Regions from separate parts of the Homo sapiens genome. Here all the other regions are linked to region 3. Evidence: fine-mapped expression QTL. A gene starts in region 3. Each other region holds a variant in brackets. All regions are shown on one strand. Distances are between the middles of the regions. Region 1 overlaps FGF12 (fibroblast growth factor 12). Region 2 overlaps LOC105374277 (a long non-coding RNA gene). Region 3 holds the start of FGF12 (fibroblast growth factor 12).

Region 1 (8,189 bases), 330 kb before region 3:
CAGCACACTGATTTAATTTCTAATCCTTGAAGAGACAAAATAAGCCTAAATTGGTGTCAAGAGAAAGACTGACATTTTAGACAGATTTCTTTATTAGTGCCTTGCAAGTAATTAAACCATGGGATGCAGTTAGGAACATCCAAAACAGCACACTAAGAAAATAGTTTTGTCCTTCAAGTAAGAAGCAGGGAAAAGATCTGTGTTTCATGTTCCCAGTCACAAATGTTTTTCCTGGGGTGAGGGGAGCTACAGTTAATAGCTTTTCAGGCTAAAGAGGCCCTTATATTTTCTTTTTTCTTTTTTTTTTTTTTTCTGAGACAGAGTCTTGCTTTGTCACCCAGACTGGAGTGCAGTGGTGTGATCTTGGCACACTGCAACCTACACCTCCCAGGTAGGTGATTTTCCTGCCCCAGCCTCCCAAGTAGCTGGGATTACAGGCATGCACCACCACGCCCGACTAATTTTGTATTTTAGTAAAGACAGGGTTTCACCATGTTGACCAGACTGGTCTCGAACTCCTAACCTCAAGTGATCTGCCCGCCTCAGCTTCCCAAAGTGCTGGAATTACAGGTGTGAGCCAGCTCTTATATATTCTTATATATAGCTCCCTTGTTTTTCAAAGACAGAAACTGAGGTCCATTTCCAGGACTGGCAGAGTAGAAAGAAAAGTAGATTAGGAAAAACAAACCTGAGTCTAAATCCAGAATCTAACCAGTCCTGTGAAACTGAGAAGCCCCAGGCTTTGCAGGACCTCAGCATCCTTAGGTGGGAAGGAGAGATGCTACCTTCAGAATCCTTCTTCCTCTGAGGCTTGCTCAGTGAGTCAGGATGTCATTTCCTCATTGATTTAACAGCAACTGAAGAACTGCAGTGACACAGGCAGTATACTAAGTTCTGAGAAATCTAGTGCTGACCAGGTCCTGTGCTTAGGAACTGAAGTTTTCATCAAGAAGACGAGGCATGCAAGCATTCCATATGATGATGCAGCTCAGTTTTGGGATATCATTAAACACAGGAAAGATTCAAATATAAGCAAAAAAAAAAAAAGTGGTGCCTTGGACAGAACGTTTATGTGTCCCTCCCCCTGCCCAATGTTGAAATCCTAACCTCCAAGATGATGTTAGGAAGTGGAAGACTTTGAGAAGTGATTAGGTCATGAAGCCTCTCTCCTCATGAATGGGATTAGTGGTCTTACAAAAGAGACCCCAGGGAGCTCCCTTGCCCCTTCTGCCATTTGAAAAAGCAGCAAAGACTGCCATCTATGACTTAGGAAGCAGGCCCTCACAGACACCGAATCTTCCGGCACCTTGATCTTGGGAATGCCAGCCTCTCGAACTGTGAAAAATACATTTCTGTTGTTTAAGCCACCTGTGCATGGTATTTTATCATAACAACCAGAATGGGCTGAGACAGAAGAGATCATCATTATAAATTATATTAGTGTATAAAATTTCTAGGCATAATGGATGTGTTCCTAAAGACATTAACAAAATCATTAATTTTGTTTAAGGGCCACAATTTATGAAATAAAGGAATTGGAACAGGTTGGGGACTCTCAATATATGATGCATATTAGCATAGACTTTCTAGGTGTTTGGCATTAGTACGTTTAAAAACTCTCAGGTGATTTCATTTTGCAGCTAGGGCTGAGAACCAGTGGCTTATATAAGCTCTAAGTGCTAACATTTTGTGATTCAGCATACAGATCCTATTTGACCCATGTCATTCTTTACTTCTAGGGAACCAAGTTTGGTCTTAGGCCTTAGGGCCCTCTCTACTGACTCCTGAAAAGTAACGAAGAAAAGACTCTATAGAGTACAGTCATCCCTCCCTATGTTCAGGGTGAGGAGTGGTGGTTACAAGACCGCCACCCTCAGGATACCCAACCGGAGGATCCTCAAGTCCTTTACATAAAATGGCATAGTATTTGCATAGCATGGTTGTACTATGGTTTTCTTCTTGAATATTTCCATCCATGGTTGGTGAATCTTCAAATGCAAAACCATCAGTCCAAGTTTCAATTATGAGGCATTAACATAAGTGTGGTTACAAGCATGGAGTCTGGGAGGCCTATAAATACTACAAACGAATCAAATAACTAACAATAGGCAGAAAAATAGAACTTTATAAAATTTGTGTTTGTAAAATCACTTGACGATTCGAAGGCCAATGAGTGTTTCTTGAGAGTTCAAGAATAAAGTAAACAGCCTTATATATATGGGTATTGTAAAACCATTAAACAATAAATAAAACCCAATCTTCCACCTTCACATTCTTTTCTTTTTTTTTTTTTTTTTGAGACTGAGTCTCGCCATGTGGCCCGGGCTGGAGTGCAATGACACGACCTTGGCTCATTGCAACTTCCGCCTCCCGGGTTCAAATGATTCTCCTGCCTCAGCCTCCTAAGTAGCTGGGATTACAGGCACCCACCACCACACTGAGCTAATTTTTGTATTTTTAATAGAGATGGGGTTTCACCATGTTGGCCAGGCTGGTCTCGAACTCCTGACGTTGTGATCCACCTGCCTCAGCCTTCCAAAATGCTGGGATTATGGGTGTGAACCACCGCACCCCGTCCCCACCTTCACATTCTATAGTGTTTTGTAGTTGGGTAATTACATTATTTGACCTCTATCAACCCTGCTCCTTCACCAGCATTCCTCCATCTCCACAAACATGCAATTCACTATGGAATAGTTCAGCCAGGGATTATCCAGGCACCTTCGACTCTCCACTCATAGTCTACCTCTTATGAAGTTCTGCTCATTCTACCTTTACCCACTCTTTTTATATCCATGGCCATCAACTTCATTTCAACATCATCTATAGCCTAGACCAGTGGTTCTCAAACTTTTTGTTTTCAGGATCCTTTACACTCCTAGAAAGTATTGAGTACCCCGAAGAGCTTTGTGCTTATGTAGTTTATATCTCTCAATATTTACTGTATTTAGAAGTTACAATGAAATTTTTCAAATAATTATTTGTTTATTAAAACAATAATAAGCCCCACTGTGTTAACATAAATAGCATGATTTAATAAAACTTATCTTTATTTTCCAAAACAAACAAAAAGGAATTAATGAAAAGACTGGTTTGTAAATCTTTTTAATGTCTAGCTTAATAGAAGTCAGCTTGTTCTCAAGTCTGCTTCTGCATTCAATCTCTTTTGATATCTTATTGTGGATGAAGTACATGAGGATAACCTGGCCTCACAAAGAAACGTGGTTGAAAAGGGAGGAAATTTTTAGTACCTTTTACAGATGATTGTGGATATATCACACAGTCTCTGGAAAATTCCACTGGACACTTGTGACAGAATGAGTGAAAATGGCAAATAACTAGTGGTATTAGGAAATATTTTTTATGAAAATCGTTTTGACCTTCTGGATCCACTAAAAGATTTTCAGGAAGCTTCTAGGGCCTCTGTACTGTATGGTACTTTGAGAACTGCTGGTCCAGACTGATGCCCTAGCCTCCTTACTGTTCCCTTGCTTCTACTCTGCTTCCATTGCTATCCATTCTCTTCTCCAAAGGCAAAGTGCCCAATTAAAAATACAAGTCGCATGATATCACCCCATACTGCTGATCTTTCTTTGGACCCTAGATTAAAATACAAAATTCATCTTAGGCTTCTCAAGGCCCTGCGGTTCTTGCCAAACTTTCCAACATCATCTGTACCCCTCTCCCCTTGTTCTTATTGCTTCAGCTATACTTCAATTTCTTCAGAAGCACCGAGCTCCCTCTCACATCAATCTTCATGCAAGTTGTTCTCTTCTGCCTTGAAGGTTCTTCCATTCCTGTCTGCCTGTTTCATCTTTTGGAGCTCAGCTTAAATGATTTTTCCTCAAAGAAGCATTTCTTGACCAAAAGCTAGAGGTAATATCTTCATTTTACAAATCAGCAAACTGAGGTGCAAAGATATTAAGAAACTTGCCTAATGTTCTTACAAATAATAAGACCATAATTTGAATTCACATCCCACTCCGAAGTCCAGGTACTTAATCATTCTGCTATGCTATCACTTAAGTTAAACAAACAAACAAAAAGATTAAATCTTACAGAGCTCTCTTTAACTTGGTGTTAACCTCTTTACTATCCAAAACATCTGAAGCAATCATTTATGTTTATGGTTAAGAGAGTCTGGCCCTCTGGGCCCAAGTCTCCCAGTGGGTCCTTAGGTATCCCATGTGGCACCCCTTCATATCATCAAGGCTCCCGGCATTCAGGCAGGAACATCCGAGCCAGGAGCCTAAGCCCAGCACATAACAACATAGCCATGGGACTGCTTCTTCAGTCCTGCCCTGAAGATCTCCATCAGCTTTCCACTTCTCTCCTCCACTCTGGGGACTCTAGACCACACACACAGCAAAACAAACCATGTAATCAC[G/A]TTCCACATTTCTTGAACTTTTCATCAGATTCCCTCCAACAATAGTTTCCCAGCTTCCTAACCCTCAGTGTGGTGGGAGATAAAAGCAGATTATCTGCAGTGTGGAACTGGGAGCCATGTGACACTTACTCATCTTCTGATTCCATGAATCTGAACAAGTCTCATTGCCACTTGAGGCTTAGTTTTCTTTTTTCTAAGATGGGGCTATCTCAGCAGACTGCTATAAAAAGTAAAAGAAGCAAAAATTATAAAGAAATTCTATAAATCCTGAAGTCAAGTTATTATTATTAAAATTTATTATTATAGATGATTAATTTATAGGCATTTTGCATCTAAGCCTTCTCCCACTCACAGATGCTTAGGAGGTAGTCTTGGAATCACAGCCCTTTAGATGTGGTGCACCTTTCTTTAGAAAATAGGAAAAGTTCTGTAATTCCATGAGTAAGCCAGAAGATAAAATTGAAAATATAGCATATCAAGCGTGTCCTCTATGTCTAACAAGGCTGTTTTGTGGAATCATCATACAATCTATAATAATTCTATACATCAAAAGCAAATATACATGATGATCATGCATTCAAAGAAGAGACAAGAAAAAATTGATCACTATTAACATATTTCCAAAGCAAATCTACAAAATTTCCAGAGCAAATTTATTCTCTCACCAAGAATAAAAGCAATGAGTTTCCATATGAGTAAGCCCAGGACTTTTTAAAATACAATTTTATGAGACAAAGCTTACATTTCTAAAGATCTTCCAAAATATTCCTATTGCTTCCTCAAATGCAGAGACTGCCTCACTTCCTATAAATTGTTTTTCTACTTCTGTTCAAGAAAAACAAATTCATTAAAACTTTAAAGACTTAATCTCGAGTTACGTCTTGATGAGATCTCTGTGGGATGAAAGAAATCAAGAGATCACAATAACTGCTATTTTAAAATGTTCCTACAATGGAAACATAATTTGTTGTTGAGAATGCACTGCTGTAGAGAGAACCGAATTTTAAAAACATGTTCAAAATATCAGTTTAAACCCTAAGGTGGGTTTCTGAAAAGTTAGGGGTCTTACTGTTTTTTTTTTTTTAACAAAAATCAAGCCAAATATCATTTAATTAGGCTGACTTTGTAGTTCAGATATGAGTCATACTTTCAAAAGAGAAAATGTAATCAAAGTACTTCCTATAAATGTAAAATATCACCTGTCATATAAATCTATTCTTGACCCATATATTGGCCAAAACTATTTCAATTTATAAAAATCTAACTCATATTCCATAAATCACATGATTAAACATTATTTCACCTTTACTGTCAACTTTCTTCTTGAAGTTTCTATTTCCTACGATATTTTCTTCCTCTATGCAAAAGGATACGTTTTATAATAAAAATGTTGAATGAGTATACTGTTAAACACTGTGCATCTACCGAAACAATGTAAAAGAATACTGAAATATTTTGAATAACCATAATTTTTATAACAGCAGAAACAGGGACTCAGAAAGATAAGGTAAATGAAAATCAACAAAATCGGGTAAATTACAATTACTACTTTGATTTATTTTACCATGTAGTGTAATTCTACTCCATTACTTTTTAAAGGGATCGGCGTATGAAATCAAATCTTTAAATTGTAAAAAAATTCTGAAGATCTTTAGGTTTTAAGATAGATTTTTCCTGATTGATTATTCTTTTCATGTTCTGGTTTGAGGTAAGAAACTAAGTTATATAGAAATATAATAAAAACACCCACATCACTTAAAATACCTAGATTTAGGCTTAATCAATTGCTTTGCTCTTTCCAGAGAGGGTCTCATTTGAAAAATGAAAGAGTAATATTGATGACCTCCAAGGTTCGTGGCCACTCAGACATTCAGAGATTCTACAAACACCTTTCCCTCCTTGATTATGAGTGTTACCCTTTGTCTGTAATAACTTCCGAGTCAAAACATACATCATTTTGTAGTCAATCATTTGTACTATTGTTTCTACTCAAAATAAAGCTAAAGGTTGGACATGAATAAGCGTGTAATTCATACGGATGTACTAATAGTCTAGATACAACAAATTAAGTGGCATCAACATTTAGGCAAATATTCTAGTGTGCCTGACTAATACAGCCTTTTCACACATAAATAATGACTCAAATAATGACTATAAGTACACTCTTTTCTCATTAGAAAGTGCACAAACAGAAATGTTCTAAAGGCTTTTTCATGGTTCAATGACCTCATCCAACTTTCCAGTTCAGGGTCTCCAATATTTCATTTTCAAAGATCTACAGTCCACACAGTGTCTAAGGGGCCCATTAACCCTAGCTGCCTATAGGTCTTCAATAATGCTATACGGTGGTCATTGCTGAAGTCCAATGGCCTCCTTAGCCTATGCCTTCTTCTACAAGTTACCTCTTCTACTCTACCCTATCTCTGTTCTAATTATAAAATAACGATCACAATGATAATAATAATACCAATGGTTAAAACTTTGACAGAAGACATCCAGTTATTTACACTAGTTGATGTTACTTTCTGCTGTGTTGCAAGGAAGGTAGGAAAAAAAGTCAACTGAATCTAGTTCTAGTCTCAATTTTGACAAAACCTAGTTGTGTAACCTTAGATAAATTACAAACTTGCAATGGCTCCAGGATTTCTCATCTACAAAGACAGAGATTTTGCTGCACAAAAAGGATCCAATGTGCACCCTGGCCCTGAAACTGTGTGATGTGAGGCCATACCTAGTCATTTCCCATGTTTTCATTCTGTGTTACTGTCATTTTAAATCTGAGCCCTTTGCCATGATAATTTCAGGATCCCCACTGTATTTATACAGCTTCAATACTACACATATCAGAACTTGGTTAGCTAAGAAAAAAGAGAAGGAGAGATACTCAATGTGTCAGCCCTGAAATCAGAAATACAACCGTGGCCTTTCCCATCAAACACTTGCCTTAGATTCACTTCCTAAGCCTCACTCCCCTAGAAAGTCTGGTCAATGGAACATGTGTCTCAGTGACAGAAATTCAGAGTGGAAATTCTTTATCAGGACAAATTATTCCACTTCACCACTTTACCATTTGTGAGTTACTTTGTTAGTTCACAATGATATGGCTTAGGAAGGCTAGTGGTTTCAAGAATCAGTCAAATATTAAGTGAATACAACATCAAAGTGATTATAAAACAGATTCGAATAGTTTTTCTTTTTGGTGTTTAGCAACTTCCTCCCAATCCAACTAAAGATTCTTCTCTGGAACTGATATGTGGAAGGTGCTATCTCTCTATAAATAGACTTATTCCATGCTATGTGAATCATGGCTGCTGACAGCAAATCAACAGATTAATTATTTGGCTTTGTTAGTGAAGATAATAGCACACTATCATCTTCCCAAAATGTTTTTACACACACCACATGCCCATTCTTCTAAGCTAAGCTTCAGAACAAACTGAAATGGTATACAAATACACGCAGGTTGCCCTTGCACTGGGAATGTCTTAATAGGTCCTGCCATCTCTCTGCCAGATTGTTATTTTGACACTTTAGCTAAAGGAAGTCACCAGTCAGGATCCTCTCTGATAAGATGAACACTGTGTAGAACAAAAAGGGAGGCAAATTAAACGAACACTGAAGAAAACAATAAACTCAGAAACTGCCTCAAATCTCTGTTTTCTAATGAGATGCTAAGGAAGAGCCCACAGGAAGCAGCAAATACAGTCCTTCCTTCCCATGCAAAATGAAGCCATGCAAAAGTAACCCATTGATCATCTCCAAGTCAACTCCAGAGATCAGGATCAGTTTATGTTACCCGTTC
Region 2 (8,189 bases), 720 kb before region 3:
TCTCAATCTCCTGACCTCGTGATCCGCCCACCTCGGCATCCCAAAGTGCTGGGATTACAGGCGTGAGCCACTACACCCAGCCCTCATCAATTTTTTTAACTATTATTCTATAGAAGACCATGTGAGGAAAGTAAAGGCATTTTCTATAGACTGGAAAAAATATTTGGAAATCACGTATCCAATGAAAAAACTAGTAGCTAGAATATATAAAGCATTCATATAATTCAACATCTTGTAATAAATTGGGCAAAAGACATGAACAGACATTGCATCAAATAGTATAAACAGATGTCAAATAAGCACATGAAAGGATGTTTGACATTATTAGTCATTAGGGAAAGGTAGAGTAAAATCACGTTGAGATCACTGCACACCTATCAGAATGACTAAAACCAAAAATAGTGAAAACACCAAATTTTGGTAAGGGTGTAGATAAATCAGGTCACTCAGAAAACAATTTGGTGTTTTCTTAAAAAAAGACAGAAAAAGAAAAATACAAACAAAATAAACAGCCAACTATCATATAACAACTCTATTTGGGAACAGTTATTCCAGAGAAACAAAAACATGACATTCTATAAAAACGTATATTAGAAGTTTCACAGGAGCTTTATTTGGAATAGCCAAAAAATGGAAGCAACACAAATGTCCTTCAATGCATTAATGTTTAAACAAACTACAGTACATCCAGTGATAGGGTCAGATGTAGACATCTACCAGTTAATTGGCAATGGCTAAAGTTTTCACCCAATGGGCAGTCACATGGAAGGAATGAAATTGGATAATTATTGACAAAGAAGACTGATAAAGAGATATGAGCCAAAGGTGAGAATATTTATATCTTATGTGAATACTCACCAAAAAGGACTCCTCTGTAGTAGAGTTACAAAAATGTGAAAATTGTATTGTAGTCGTAGTCTCTTTCTTCAAGTACTTTAGTATTTGCTCAAAGGGCTCCTGAATATAGTCAGGAAGGTAAGTTAACTATAAGCTCAACAACATGGATTTCACCTCGCTATGGTGAGGACAATATGGACTGTGTCTAATCTGCCAGAATCATTGAAAAATACTAAAATCCACAAGGGGGGCAATACCTAACCATAAAGTTCTGAGCATAATCAGCTGCAAACATCAACTGATGAAAATGCTATTTTGCTACAGCATTCCCTTGGCATCGCTCCTGGACAGCTGTTCCCAAAGGCATATTTTTCCTAGATATTTAGGATTTAAGCCTGGTCCCCTTGGTCTATACAGGTTTTCTGGTGCTGCCAATAGACTTCAAATAAATCACTTCCTACTAAAACTATTGGAGTGAATTTTGTTGTTTGCAACTAAGAATATTCAATGATTGTCTCAAATGGCAAACTATCATACATAATGGCAATTTGTGGAAGGAGTGTTCTTTTTTTTTTTTTTGAGCAGTGGAATTTTCTATACATTTTATATTCAACTTTGGTGGGACTTAAATCCAAGTTTTTAAAGCCAACCAAAACACAGGTGAGAAGCCAAAGGCCACTCTCCTCTCAAGCAAAAATAATTTGAGAGGCAGTGTTCACTTTCCTCATGAATGCCAAATATATTCTTTTCAGTTTTCTTAATAATCTCTTACAATCACTCCTTCTATTTATCTTCTGGTTTAAAAATTGTTTGCCCCCTGCACACAGGCTGCTATAAAATCACATTTTTTTTTTTAACTCAAGTGGGTTTTATCAGAAATCAATTCATTGGGATACCACATGTGCTTTGAATCTAAGCTTTTTATTTTATTTTCATTTGTATAATGCTATAACTGAAATAACTTTAAAGATCACTAATTCGACATCTTCAAATTATAGAAAAACTGGAACCTAGACAGGGAATGTGAATTGTCTATGGTCAGTAATGTTTGGTAAAGCTTGGCTCAGGACCCCACTTCTTTGTCTTTTAACTCAGACTGCTCAATGTTTCTCTTAAATCAGAGGTTCCCTGCCATAATAATCATTGCTCTATCATTACCCAAATATGTATCTCATATTGCAATTCATATTGTTCCCAAGGTATAGAACCTAAGATTAATAATAATGCCAAGTTGAATACTATATTTGAAAAGTTTTGGTCCGGTCACAGTGGCTCACGCCTGTAATCCCAGCACTTTGGGAGGCCAAGGTGGGTGGATCAGGAGGTCAAGAGTTCGAGACCAGCGTGGCCAACATGGTGAAACCCATCTCTACTAAGAATACAAAAATTAGCCGAGTGTGGTAGCACATGTCTGTAATCCCAGCTACTCGGGAGGCTGAGGCAGGGGAATTGCTTGAACCCAGGAGGCAGAGTTTGCAGTGAGCTGAGATCACGCCACTGCACTCCAGCCTGGGCAACAGAGCAAGACTCCATCTCAAGAAAAAAAAGAAAAGTGTCACATCAAATTATTGTTAAACTATAACTTCCTCAAAAATATTTACCTTCTTTGGGCTCACGTTGTGATTATTCTGGATTCTGAATTTCCCTCACCCTTTAAATTTCCCTCTTCAAGTACCATTTTCTTTGCATTCTCATTGCTATAATTAAATGTATTGTGTTAATATGAAGAAGAAGCTTTTTCCACCTAATTGGTCTCTTTAATATGTCTTTTAAACATATGTAATTTATTCCTGGGAATGAACTTGGTTATCCTTTGCAGACAAACATCAAGGTCTACCATGCATAGATAATTCCAGAGATATATTAATTATCTCACTTAAGTAGCAGGCTGAGATGCATCAATATTCCTTTCCTCAGAAAAGTGGTGCTTATGCATTGGTAATTGAGTGATATGACAAATATATGTAAATATTAATCAATAATAGAGGTGATAAATCTAACCATATTTAAATGACCTTTGAATAACAACAAAAAAAGTCTTTTATCTAGAGATTCTTTGGCCTGTACTCAGTTCCACTGTATCTTCTTTGCCCCCAGAATGCTTTGCTTTTATACACAAAACAGTCTTCAAATGAAAATATACTGCAAATCCCAGTATTAAAAAAGAGATAAAAGTAGAGTTGCTCTGATGGACTGAAGTGTCTGCCTGACCGGAATCCTCACCTCAGTTCACACACAGGACTCTGATAGTGACCTAGGAGGAAAACAGATAACTCTTAAAAGCACAATTAAAGGTACAAGGGATTTGAGACTGAAAGGTATCTTTGAGATAATCCTGTTTATAACTCTTCAAAAATGAATGCCATTTTGCTCGAATTAGAGTAAATGTAGGAGGACAAGGAAAAACAAGTTCCTGATCATCAGTGAGAGTAGCAGCCCCTCCTGCTACCCTCCCTGACATTGAAGACATTTCTGATGACATTTTCCAGACTAATTCAGTTATATTAATGACACTGCGTGAAACATTTGGATACTTGTTGTAGCATATTTGATATTTATATTCAAACATTAATAATTTGGGACTTCACCTAATGATTCCTCTAATAAATATTTACTGAGAAGTAGAGTGAGACTTTAATTAGAGAAACTCACAAAGTGAGACTTAATGGGATTTTAATTCCAACTGTATTGCTGCTAAGTACTCGTTGATTTTTGGATGGACCCTAAACACCAGAAAGAAATGTTCCCTGGAACTTTTAAAGATAAATACTTTCGTAGTCATATAAATGGCCATTCTATTATGTTTTAAAAGTGTTACACAATTGATAATTTTGAATGAAATTTTCTGGTCACTTTAGTGAAGCAAGTCCTTTTTGACCATTTTGGTAACCATCAATTTCAACATCATGGCGAACTGACTGGGATTCCTGTTGCCACAGTTACATGAAAGCCCGAAGTGTCTATTGCTTCTTCACAGTTCATCTTCCCTTCTCCCTCAGGTGGAGCTACTTCACCTTCCACTTCAGGATTAGTTTTGTGCAAATGTAGTTAACAATCCAGTCTTTAGTCCAAAGCAACATTAAAGTTTGGCTCAGTGTTAAAGGGACTCATAATCAAGCCATCTTGACTGGTTTATATGTTCCAACTCTAGTAAAAGAGCCACTTCCTGTTTTGAGAACACCAACTCAGATAACTGGACTCTTTATTTGTTTTCCTGGGCGTGGGTCCATGTGATAAACTGTCTCTTTCCACAATGCCACCTTAGATGTTTGGATCCTATGTCTAGCTGCAATGTCATGCCAAGTACTGGGACTGTTTCCT[G/C]TATAAAAGGGTTAGATAACACTGTGAAGGGAAATCCTCAGCATCAAATTCTTACAAAGAAATAATGGAAATGATGTTGTGCTGAGAGAGAACTTCAACAAAGGTCCAGTCTTCTACTCAACATAGTAATTCAACAAGTATTTACTGAACATTTATTATATGTCAGGCATTGTTCTAAGCACTGGAGATACAGAAGCAACTAAGTCTCTAGCCTTATAAAGCACACTAAGTCTCTATCCTCATAAAACTAACATTTAAATGAGATAGCCAAACAATAAATAAATATAAAAATATACAGAATAATGTCAGGTAATAAGATGAGCTATAAAGGAAAATAATGTAGGATAAAGGGATAGAAAATGATAGCTGCTCTTTTGATAGAAAAAATATTTCTGAGGAGATGGCATTTGAACAGAAATTTGATTTATCTAAATTTATCCCTCTTTTTAACTAAGATTTAGAAAAATGGAGCCTAATAAGAGACAAACATGCCAAACGGTGCCCCAAGAACTGCTCAAGATGGATCTAAATGATCTATTCCCCCGAGGTGTAAAAAATGTGTGCTAAGAAGAGAATTTAAGGCTTCTCTTAAATTTGGTTTCAATAATATAGGAGGAATTTTCTAGATCTAACATACCCTCCTTGGTAGGCCAGAAATACCTTTTGAGATGGTTTTCATACTTTCTGCAAGAGTTAATGGTTTGGTCCCATAAATGTGAAATTAGAGAACCTGGACTCTGACCCACAAGAGAACCAAGACAAATAGAATAAATCTCCTTGTCTTAGACACAATTAAAGGAGACCTCCACCTCCAATCATTGTCTCTATCAGTAGCAGCCTCAACACCCTTACTGCTGGCTCCCCGGGATTTTAGATCCCAGTTGCAGTGCCTCTGAAGTTTTAATAATAATAAAAAAAAGCTGTTCTCTGTATCTTTCAGGAGTAACTTCAGCTTGATACCTGGAATTATTATGAACCATAGTCTTTTAAATATGAGAGAAAAGAGGAGATATTGGCCAAAGAATACCAAATTTCAGTTATAAGACAAATAGTCTGTAGATCTAATGTACAGCATGATGACTATAGTTAATATAGCAATGTGTCCTATATTCAAAATTTGCTAAGAAAGTAGATCTCAAGTATTCTCACCCCTCTGTCCCCCAACCCACCACACAAAAGATGAATAGGCCAGTTGTTGGATATGTTGGCACAATTGTGGTAGTCGTTCCACAATGTATACATTTAGCAAAAATATCACGTCGTACACCTAAAATACATACAATTTATATGTGTTAATCATACCTCAACAAAGCTAAGAACAAAGTATTAATAAATAAATAATGTCCTATTTGTCCTCCCTTTCTTCTGTTTCCTGCACTGCAGCTATAGTGATCATTCCAAAAGGAATATTTGATCCAGTCTCAACAAGATGTTAAATGACAAAATTCCTTATGTCTTGAATTTTGGATGGGAATGAATCACTATAATCACATTCTAAAGAAAGTTTCTAGATACACTCATGCGGGACTTGTTAAAACACAGCAAAGAGAATGAAACAACCATTAGAAACTCAAATATCTATTTTAATAGGAGACTAACATGTTTTAATATTAACATATTCTTTAATATTAATCCTACCCTTCCTTAAGGGAAAGATAAGAGAGGGGTATCATCAACCTCTCAAGCCAAGTGAGGAAAATGCTAAGGACAATAAAACATCTGGGAGATTGAGTTGCTTGCAAAAATTAGGGACTGCCATTTTACTTTGCTCCTGAATGTTTACTAAATTACTAAGATATACATGTAGATTACCAGACTAAAGAAATATGGGCCAGGCGCGGTGGCTCACGCCTGTAATCCCAGCACTTTGGGAGGCTGAGGCGGGAGGATCACGAGGTCAGGAAATCAAGACCATCCTGGCTAACACGGGGAAACCCCGTCTTTACCAAAAATACAAAAAATTGGCCGGGCGTGGTGGCGGGCGCCTGTAGTCCCAGCTACTCAGGAGGCTGAGGCAGGAGAATGGCGTGAACCCGGGAGGCGGAGCTTGCAGTGAGCCAAGATCGAGCCACTGCACTGCAGCCTGGGTGACAGAGTGAGACACCGTCACAAAAAAAAAAAAAAAAAAAAGAAATATGAAGACATTTGGGGATAGCTTGAGATACGGCCCCTTAGGGAGAGGTAGGGTGTATGTGTGCGTTATTTAGAAACTCATACCTGCATATTAATGGGAGGATTCTGGAGGTTAGAGGCCAGCTGGAGCAGTACTGGAGACTAGGGCAAGGAAGGAGGGTACAGCGTGACAAGCCTGCCTTCCTGCTACTTGGTGTGGTAAGCATGATGAATTTTCTATTGGCCAAATGGATGCCATGGAAAGTAGCTCTTTTAAAGAGAATTCATCTCAGTAGGATGCCTGGTGAAATAAAGAGATATCAAGGGTGAATGTGGTTACATATCCACATAGCAGCTGGAGGAGGAAGCATCTGCAAACGTTCTGTCAGAAGGTATATTTCCTAGTTGTGTGGAAACTGTCATTTGGCAGTTTCTGTGAGGCCTCCAAAGAACCCAAAAATGCAACTCATGAGAGAGTTTTTGCAAATATCAAGGGCATCAAACCAAAGAGTACAAATAAAATAGTAAAAATTACCTAAAGCCCACCCGCCTTTCTTCTGGCTTCCACTCCCCTGCCCCAGCCTCAGAAGAGTCCACAGCTTGAGAGATTATGATAATTGAAAGAGCCAGAAGAAGAGTGAGAAAACAGACTATGACTTCTTTCCCACTGCAGATCCCTGAGCCATGAGCGAGGCATCCATTTAAAAGAGGAGTGAGGCATGGAAATGAACAAGAGGCTGGCATTTTGTGGTTGGACTCGACTATATCTTTAATACATTAAAATAAGTCATAGTTATAAAAATAAGACTTCTATAACTGAATATTACCAAAAAGAAACTTCCACTTTTAGCCATGATGATGAAACAGGGACTGGATTTACACTTACAATGGAAACTATGAACAAAACCAGGTAAAATATATGAAACAACAGATTTTAGATGTTGGATATCAGGCAGCCCAAGACAGTGATTCCTGATTGAGGAGGGAAAAAATAAAGTAATTTGTGTGATAGCCCCCAGCTTACAATCTATAGAGAGTATACAGGTCATTGTGCAGGAAGAAGAACCTGAAAAAAGCCCAGCCATCATGCTAAATTAAGACAGACTGTAGGGTACAGCGATGTCATCGTGTGTAACTTTTTCTAGAGGGAGTACTGGAGGAGAAAGAGCTAAGCAAAGAGAGAGTTCTAGATCCCTATGGAGAGGCAGGGAAAGGAATCTAAAAAAGCCCAGTGGTGTCCCTAATTTAAGAGACCTGAGGGTCCAGGGATGTCAAGTTGTTCAGCTTTCTCTAGACAGAATACTGGAGAAGACAGAGCTGAGCAAACAGAGAGTTCTAGATAGCTAGCTGTAGAGAGGTCCCTCAAGTCTTCAGCTGAGTACTGGTAACCCAAGTGTGTGAGGAAAAGCAAATCTTCATGAGCAGGTGAATGGATAAATAAAGTGTTGTACACTTAATGAAATACTGCTGGTCTATAAAAAAGGGATGAACTATTGATACATGCAACTGCATGGATGGATCTCAAAATAATTATACTAAGTGAACGAAGACAAACAGAAAGAGCACATCGTGTTTTATTCCACTTACACACAATTATGGAATATGAATACCAATTTACAGTCACAGAAAGCAGATCAGGGCTGGTGAGATTAGGGTAGGGTAAGGGGGTGAGAAAAGGAGGATGACACAGAGGATGAGGAAACTTTAAGGAGTGATGCATATGTGCATTGTCTTGGTTGTGATGATGGATTCATGGGCATGTACATATGTCAAAATGTATTAAATTCCACAATTTAAATTTGTATATAGTTTTGAATTGAGTTATAACTCAATAAAGCAGTTTTAAAATGGAGGGTGACAGATCTTACTAGAATGTTTTCAAAGAAGAGAGAAAGGAAAGTAGACATCATTCAGTTAAA
Region 3 (8,189 bases):
TTATTAGGGGTATGGCCTAAGCATCTTTACATTTGAAAAGCTCTACAGGTGTTTCTATAGGTAGTATGCCAGCTTGAGGCTGGAAATCTACCTAGACAAAGAAAAATGTGATATAGGTGGGGGTCAGTGGGAGGTGAGAGTGTGTGTGTGTGTGTGAGAGAGAGAGAGAGAGGAGAGGAGAGGAGAGGAGAGGAAAGGGGAGGGGAGAATAGGGGAGAAAGGAGGGAAGAGGAAAGGAGGGGAGGGGAGGAGAGGAAGGAGGGGAGGGGAGGAGAGGAAGGGAGGGAGGGGGAAGGAAGAAAGGGAGGAAGGGAAAAGGGAGGGAGAAAGGGAGGAAGGGAAAGGGAGGGAAGAGGGAAAGAAGGAAGGAAGAAAGGAAGGAAGGAAGAAAGGAAGGAAGGAAAGAAGGAAGGAAGGAAGGAGGAAAGGAAGGAAAAAGCCTGTTTCCTCACTCCAAATCATGCTTCTCAAACATTAATGTGCATACAAATTGCCTAGGTACTTTGTCAAAATTCTAATTCTGACTCAATAGACCTGGAGTAAATATGGAGATTCTGCAGTTCTAAAAAATTTGTCTGCAAACCACATTTTGACTATCAAGAGTCTAAATCAGTGGTTTCCAAACACTGCTGTACATAGGGACCTCTAAAGGAAACATATATGCTTTTTTCTTCCACCCCAATATTCTAATTTCATTGGTATGCGGTGCCATCTCAGGATGAGTATGTTCAGAAAGTATGTCAGGTGATTCTAGTGTGCAGCAAACTTTGTGAACCACTCCTCTAAATACTAAACATTTTAACTCATTTAAGAATCTCAAGCCCTTAAGATACGCAAGGCACAAATTCCGTCAGAGCTGCTCGGACTGCGTACCAACCCAAATCTTTGAGACAATGTTAAGTACATGGTGCACAAAAATCGCTGAAATTAGATCATGAATTGAACCTCAGGTCAACTGATGTATTTTCCTCTCTTCTTTACCCTGTATGACAGGGAGTGATGCAAAGTTGTAAATAAGGAAGCAAAAATAAATTGATCTTATTTGTAAATAGCTGAAGTTCAACTTTCTGGATGCTGGACAAATGCTCTAAGAAAGGCTGTCAAATGCTAGAGGTAATGTGAAAGTTGTCAAGTGTTGGCGATGGGATTCAAGATTAAACAGGCCATTAGATCTGGGTATGGGATAGAGAACTCTTGAACCCTCAACTGAGTCACGCAATATGACTCTATCTTTAAAGAGTTTCTACTAGAAAAGTATTATATATACATACATTTGAGAATGTCTTCCTAGAATTAGATTTGAATCTGTTGGGGGAAGAAGTTTGTACACGGCAGCATAAAATGTGAAAGATGCACCAATTACAGTATTGCACAAATACACATTTCTCTTAATACACTCTTTTTGGCTGGAATAAAAATTTCAAGTTAGCTACCATCGTTAGCTGTGCCATTTGCACCAACTTAGAAAGTGAGGCCAATGTATAAGTAATTAGCCATTTTTAATCTGATTGCCAAGCAGCTAACACAGCTTCATTAAGAAAGTCCAGGAACTAACATGCATAAAGACTTTCATCATGTTTTTTTTTTTTTTCAGAGGCAATTATGGGACCTCTGCAAAATGACCACAATGTTGGCCTACAGCAAAAGTCTTCGTTGCCTTTGGATCAGTGCTGTGATTCACTATATCATTGCTGTCTGGATTGACATAGAACTTCTGAACTGATTCTTTTCGGATGTATTTCTGAGATTCTTTCTCCTTTCTGAATTCAAAAGACTGAAAGAACAGCTAGAACTCTACTGTTAGCAATATGATCATTAAACCACCTGGAATGCTAAGTGACACGTAGCATGTTTTATGGGCAACGAAGGAAAATAAAAGATTACTGCCGAGAGATATAGCCTCTTTTTATGATTGAACAGGAATTAGTATACACATTGGAGGCAAAACTGTTACCAAGAACCTTTGTCAAATAACTAAATTTAGTGACCAAATACCAGGTGTCATCTAAGCAAGAAAAACTGTTTCATAGTAAAATGATATTCTTTTTCTGTTGTTAACCTTATGTCCCAGAAATACTTAGTCAGCTAGAATATTACAAACCTTTATATGTTAAGGACTGCCTTTTTATTTTAAAATGGAGTATAATAGAGTTAATAATATATGCCTCAAATATACTTATAGACATGGATTCTCTCATATGTGTACATCATTGTCAGACGTGGAGATGCCCATCAATGTATCATAAGAATAATCTGCCTGAACTGAAAATTGCCTGCTAGTCTTAATCCATGTTGATTCAGCTCTTTTTATACTATAAATGCTTGCCTAGGTTCAAATACTTTAAATCTACCAATTAAATACTTAAAACACTTTATTGAACATAGAACTGCTATCATTCAACACTCCAGTTTCATTAATCAGCCCAGAAATAGGTAACTCACCACCATTCCCTGATCCTAAGTACATTACCACAGTGACTGACATTCCTGGTTTAAAAATAAAATCTTGTTTCAAATATAGCTTCCCGAGTTCTGGGTAATGAATATAGTTTCATAAAAGTTGACATCATTTCTTCTGATTTCGCCAGAATTAAATACATCCAGTATGCCTCCTGGATATCTGACCACCATATCACTCAAGGCTCTCACAACCTGGTGGGCGTTTTAAGGAGAAGGAGAAACAGACCTGCATAGATGGGGTTAAATCCAAAAGATATCTAATCTTGTGGTTAGAATAGTCGTTGTGTTTATGTGTGTTCAATATGCCATTCAGAAGTTGATTTTTACAGTTCATTTATCAGTTGGCATGCATACATTATGCAGATTTGCTTATGAGGAGAACATTAATATGTACATGTCCAGAACTAGTAAATGCATTATGCTTGGAAGCCAAGCAGTACTCCCATACACTGTTCTTCTTAGAGGTCAGTTCTAACGCATGCTGTTCCAAATAGACCCAATTTCTCTGCTGATATATATTCAAAATGCAGTAGGATGTGGTCATACACACCCAGAAATACCATCTTCATGAGGTGGGGGTGGTGAAATTCAAACATTTTTTTTTTAGCAATGCATTATTGGATATCAGGTACAAACGTGCCTGTCAGCAATTCTAAAGCAAATGAAATAGATTTATTTGAGTCCATCCATTATACAGAAAAGATATTGCTTTACTAACACATACCTCCTCCTCCTCCTCCATTTTGGGGGGACTCTCCCCACCTCCCCCCAAAAAACTCATCACAGTTCACTACGCAACTGATGGAGTATTAAACACTGTCTTCCAAGCTGTGGGAGTTAAAAAGAAGTCGCCTTCCTGCCACACTTCCCCAGTGCTGCAATGGACATAGCATCTCCTCCTCTATCGACCTAGTATGATGCTCGCTCCCCAAGCACTGCAGTCCCCTCGCCGAGGATTGCCTTGGCCACACGCACATGCAGCGGGAAGTCCCCCGATAGGGACAACCACATACCTTTGCTCTCCATTTCGGTCCCTTTCGAGTGCTGGGAAGTTCAATGGAAGTTGGCCGGAAGATGTGGGCCCGCTTCAGATTCCCAAATCTGGGAAGCCAATCTGATGATTTCGCCCGTACTTCCTTCCTTCCCCTCAGGCTTCCTGAAAGATGGGATTTCTTAAACCTTGAAGCTGCAATCAGCCACCAAAGGACACTTAGGAGCAGCAGCAGATTGCCTCTACAGGGGATACGTTGCGACGCGCATCTGATACTGAAATGCATGCACAGTGCCCGCTCAGATTTTTTTTTTTTTTTTTTTACCTGGGTCTGGAAGCTGCAGGCAGGAGCTGTCCTCCGAGCGTGGTGCTGCAGGTGTAGTGACAGATCATCCCACTTTGCTCTCTGGATGCACAGCAGATTTGCATGGGCGCTGGCACGCATGCGCAGGGCGTCCCCCCTCCCCTTTTCACCGCCTCCCGCTCCCCCGCCCCCTTCGCCTCCCTCCCCAATACGGTCCTCAGTTATCCCAGCTGAGGAGCTGTAGCATTCGGTCACAGGGAAGCGCTGCTAAAAATAAACGCCGGACCGGATTTTCCTCTGCAAACTAGAAAATGGATTGGACTAGTACTGCGTGCATCAGGACGAATTACTGAAGTCTTAGAGGAGGCTAGTGTCTCCAGGCAGGGTATGGTTTTATTCAGAAGGCAGGGAGGAGAGATTTACGAATCGTTTTTAATGTTCACAATTTGGGTTTCTCTTTCTACTTGCTGCAGTAACTTTCCAGCTGTCTGCTTCCCTCTCCTCTCCCCACTGACTTCACATTGCTTGTTATATTCCTGTATGTGTTTTGTTTTGTTTTTCGAGAGTGGGGTGAGAGTAGTTATGGAGCTGTCAAAGGTTAATATTCTCTCGCTTCTTTGTTACTCAAACTCAGTGTTTTCCTGCCTGCCTCCACCTCAAAACTGTTCCATGAGCAGGCTCCAAGGCTTCTAAAGTTCTTCAAAAAAGCCACTGAGGATATTTTGAGGTGCTCTTTTTAGCTTTTTTCCAACAACCTGCAAGAAGTCCCCAAAGGTGGGGAGGCGTCTTATTGATAATAAGTACTTCCAAAAGCAATACCTAATCATTTTTGTGAAGTTGCAGGGATAGAGTATTTTTCTTGTACAGAGCTCTAGAGGAAGATGCAAAACCACAAATCTCTTGAAGTGCTACTTTCATATCAAAATATTTCTAAAGCCCACACTGTATTTCGTTTATATGCAAAATGTTTAACAGGAAAAATTGTGTTGTATTTACTACCTTTTTTTTTCAATAGTCCAGATTTTCCTGAGGTGATCATCTCTCCTTGAGAATAATAATCTTATTCTCCAGAAGTCCAGAAAACTCTGTTATCTGAAATGGTTAAGGAAGGAGATGTGCAGATTAGTCACATACTCTACTTCATGAAAGATCCTTCCACAGTAGGCTTCTAGTCCCAATTTTCAAAACATTGAAATATAATAAAATGTACTCCCAACAAGAAACCTGGAGTTGTATCTAATTTAATCTTTTTCTGGTGATTCAGAGGGCATCCTTTGATTTTTCCAATGCCTGAGGGCCATGATTACAAATATTAACCACGGATGGTTCAGCCAGACATGGACATTATTAGTGGAGGACTCCCACTAATGAACTGCTGTGGGTCAGCAACGCCTGGATCCATTCAGCATTTAGGAGTATCGGATTGCAGAGGCCACAACCTAGGGCCTACTAATTTTTAGGTTCTCCAACTGTATGCCAAAGTACGTGTTTGGAAGAATCATAAAATTCAGGATTTCTTTTCAATGTTGAATAGGCTTAGGAAGTAAGCTTAGGGTGGGAGTAGTGTTGCTCCTTAAGAACAATAGTCTATTTCATTGAGATAAATAATTTCTGCTCTTAATACTGCACCCCGTTACATGTTCTTTCCTTCTCAAAGGTTTTAGAATAGGAGATATCTTTAGAATGCATCTCTATGTACTCTTCATATTTATTCTTTTACAGACGGAGAAACTAAAGGCAGGGGAGGAGTGGCACTTGAAAAGAGTCACATGGTGAACCAGATCTGGGCTCAGAACCTAAGTGTCATACCTCAAAGGCAGAGGCAAGCCATCTATAGTCCAGAATGATTTTTCATATAACTGCCTTCCCATTATCTACAGTGAATAAGAACAGGGAGAACCTTCTAGTTCATAAATTATCATTATTTTTATTCATAATTTTAAGAACCCAGCTGCTTTATTAAATAGAAAGCAAATCAAATTTAATGCAAAATTTGTGTTCTGACATTCAAGATCTTTCCATTCTTCTCCAAGCTTAACTCCTAGACAACAATTGCTATTATCCTAAACAAACCTCAAGATTGTTTTTAAACCAGGGGAAAGTGGGATCACAGACCCCCACTACCACAAATTATGCAGTCTAGTTTCCCACGTATGGGGAAATTGCAGGGGTCAGCACATCTGGAATGCAATTGATAAGCCTTGACTGGGAAAACAACCTTCTTGCTCATGATAGCTCCTCTGTCAAGATTTTTCTTACCTTTGCTTACATAGTCATTGCTGGAATATCTTGACCTCATCAAACCACTACCTACCACAAGTATCTACAAATTCAAATCTTATATTTTCCTCTAGATCCATCTCCTTCTTACAGTCTTCCCTGATACTCTTAGTCTGAAAATATTCTCTACCAAGAACACTGATGATCCGCTCACTAATGATTCCAAAACTGATGAGTTACTTCTCTTCCATCACTATTTTTTATTCTGTACCAGAATGATTTATGTATATATCTTGTTCCTTTTTCCCACTCATATTTTTAAATGGCCTCCTTTTACTTCAGTGTAGTCTAGAGTGTCCTGAACATAGGAAACAATAAAAATGTTTCATGAATTAATAACATTTAGCATACATGTTTTTGTGTACTTTACTATGTGACATTAACTACAATCACCATGATAACAAAATGATGATAATATTGACCTAACATTGCTCAGAGCTTACTATGTGCCAGGTACTATAAGGATTCTAAATGTTTAATGAATATTATCTTTATTCATTAAATAAGCTATATGAACATGCAAACGGCCAATAAATATATGAAAAAAAGTTCAACATCACTAATCATCAGAGAAATGCATATTAAAACCACAAAGAGATATCATTTCATCCCAGTTAGGATGGCTATTATCAAAAGACAAAGAAAATAAAGCACATGCTAGTGAGGAAGCAGACAGAAGGGAATTCTTATGCACTGTTGGTGGGAATGTAAACTAGTACAGTCACTATGGAGAACAGTATTGAGTTTTCTAAAAAAAAAAAAAAAAAAAAACTAGAATTACCATATGATCCAGCAATCCCACTACTGGGAATTTATCCAAAAGAAAGGGAATCAGTATATCAAAGAGATATCTGCACCCATATGTTTATTGCAGCACTATTACAATAGTCAAAATATGGAATCAACTTAGGTGTCCAACAACAAATGAATGCATAAAGAAAGTGGGGTACATATACACAATAAAATATTATTCAGCCATAAAAAAGAATGGAATCCTGTCATTTGCAGCAACATAGATGAAACTGAAGGACATTATGCTTGATGAAATAAGCCTAAGAAACAGAAAGTTAAACACCACATGTTCTCACTCATACGTGTAAGATAAAAGAAAAAGTTGATTTCATAGAAGTAAAAAGTAGAACAAAGGATAGGAGGAGCTGGGAAGGGTAGGGGGAAGGAGGGAGAGATTTGTAAAAGGATACAATATTACAGCTAGGTGGGAGGAATAAGTTCTAGTGTTCTATACGACTGTAATATGGTTATAGTTAATAATAATATTTTACATACTTTAAAATCAGCAGAAGGAGGATATTGAAGTTTCCCAACACAAAGAAATGATCAATATTTGAGATGATGAATATAATAATTACCCTGATCTGATCACTTACATTATATGTATTGAAATGTCACTGTTTACCCCATGAATGTGTACAATTATTATTTGTCAATTTAAGAAATAAAATAAAATATTATGAGGTTAGTACTATTATGATCTCTGTTTTAAAGATAAGCAACCTGGAGCACAGAGAGGTTAAAGTATGAATAAAACATGATCTCTGCCGTACAGAAGCATAAAGTCTATTGAAGATGATAGAAACATAAATGATTTTAAAAGCTATCGTAAGGTATAAGATAGGTTGTCACAGGTGGAGTAGGAGGTGCAGAAGAGTTGGCAGTCAGCCAGCCTGAGGGTTTTAAGAAAGTTTCCTGGAGGAGACATATATAGAGCTAGTTCTTGAAGTGTGAGCTTCACAGGGTTGGGGTATGAGTGTGGGGCAGGGACCATGTGAGTGTGCAAAAGTACTTTTGGACATAAGAAGTTATTATCATTTTCCAGGTTTCTCTGCCAGATGTGAATCTCCAATGTCAAAGAGGAAAGTGGACGGAGGCAGAGAAATGCTTAGTACTGTTCCGGGATCAGAGCTACAAAACTCCAGAGTATCTGGGAGAGATCATATCTCTTTATCTCACCTAAGTTTTCTATCATACATTTGAATAGAGAGACAGTAGAGCATAGTGAAAAAAATAGATTCTGGAACCAGACAGACGTGGGCTCAAATACAATTTGCTTCTTATTATTTATGGTACCATCTTGGGCAATTAATCCATTTGGGTCCTATTTTTTTAATCTGGAAAAGTAAGTAATATCTTCTT

The links. PIP is the estimated chance that this variant, and not a neighbour inherited with it, causes the effect.
Region 1: its variant is fine-mapped to the expression of FGF12 in tibial nerve (GTEx, PIP above 0.99).
Region 2: its variant is fine-mapped to the expression of FGF12 in lung (TOPMed, PIP above 0.99).

The regions. Positions count from the first base shown.
Region 1 is chr3:192,398,090-192,406,278 of GRCh38, forward strand. The region is part of intron 2 of FGF12 (fibroblast growth factor 12); the gene reads right to left. Among named protein-coding and RNA genes, the nearest start is that of FGF12-AS2, 110 kb to the right of the region's middle. The variant G/A (reference allele first, on the strand shown) is at 4,388.
Region 2 is chr3:192,002,147-192,010,335 of GRCh38, forward strand. LOC105374277 (a long non-coding RNA gene) reads right to left here. Exons shown (of 4, transcript XR_924827.2): 3 at 6,376-6,571; 4 at 2,918-3,091. Among named protein-coding and RNA genes, the nearest start is that of FGF12-AS1, 230 kb to the right of the region's middle. The variant G/C (reference allele first, on the strand shown) is at 4,159.
Region 3 is chr3:192,723,708-192,731,896 of GRCh38, forward strand. FGF12 (fibroblast growth factor 12) reads right to left here and starts at 3,834. Exons shown (of 6, transcript NM_004113.6): 1 at 3,777-3,834; 2 at 3,474-3,616. The coding sequence starts at 3,486. LOC107986056 (a long non-coding RNA gene) reads right to left here. Exons shown (of 3, transcript XR_001740579.2): 3 at 4,016-4,847. It also overlaps the pseudogene RNU1-20P.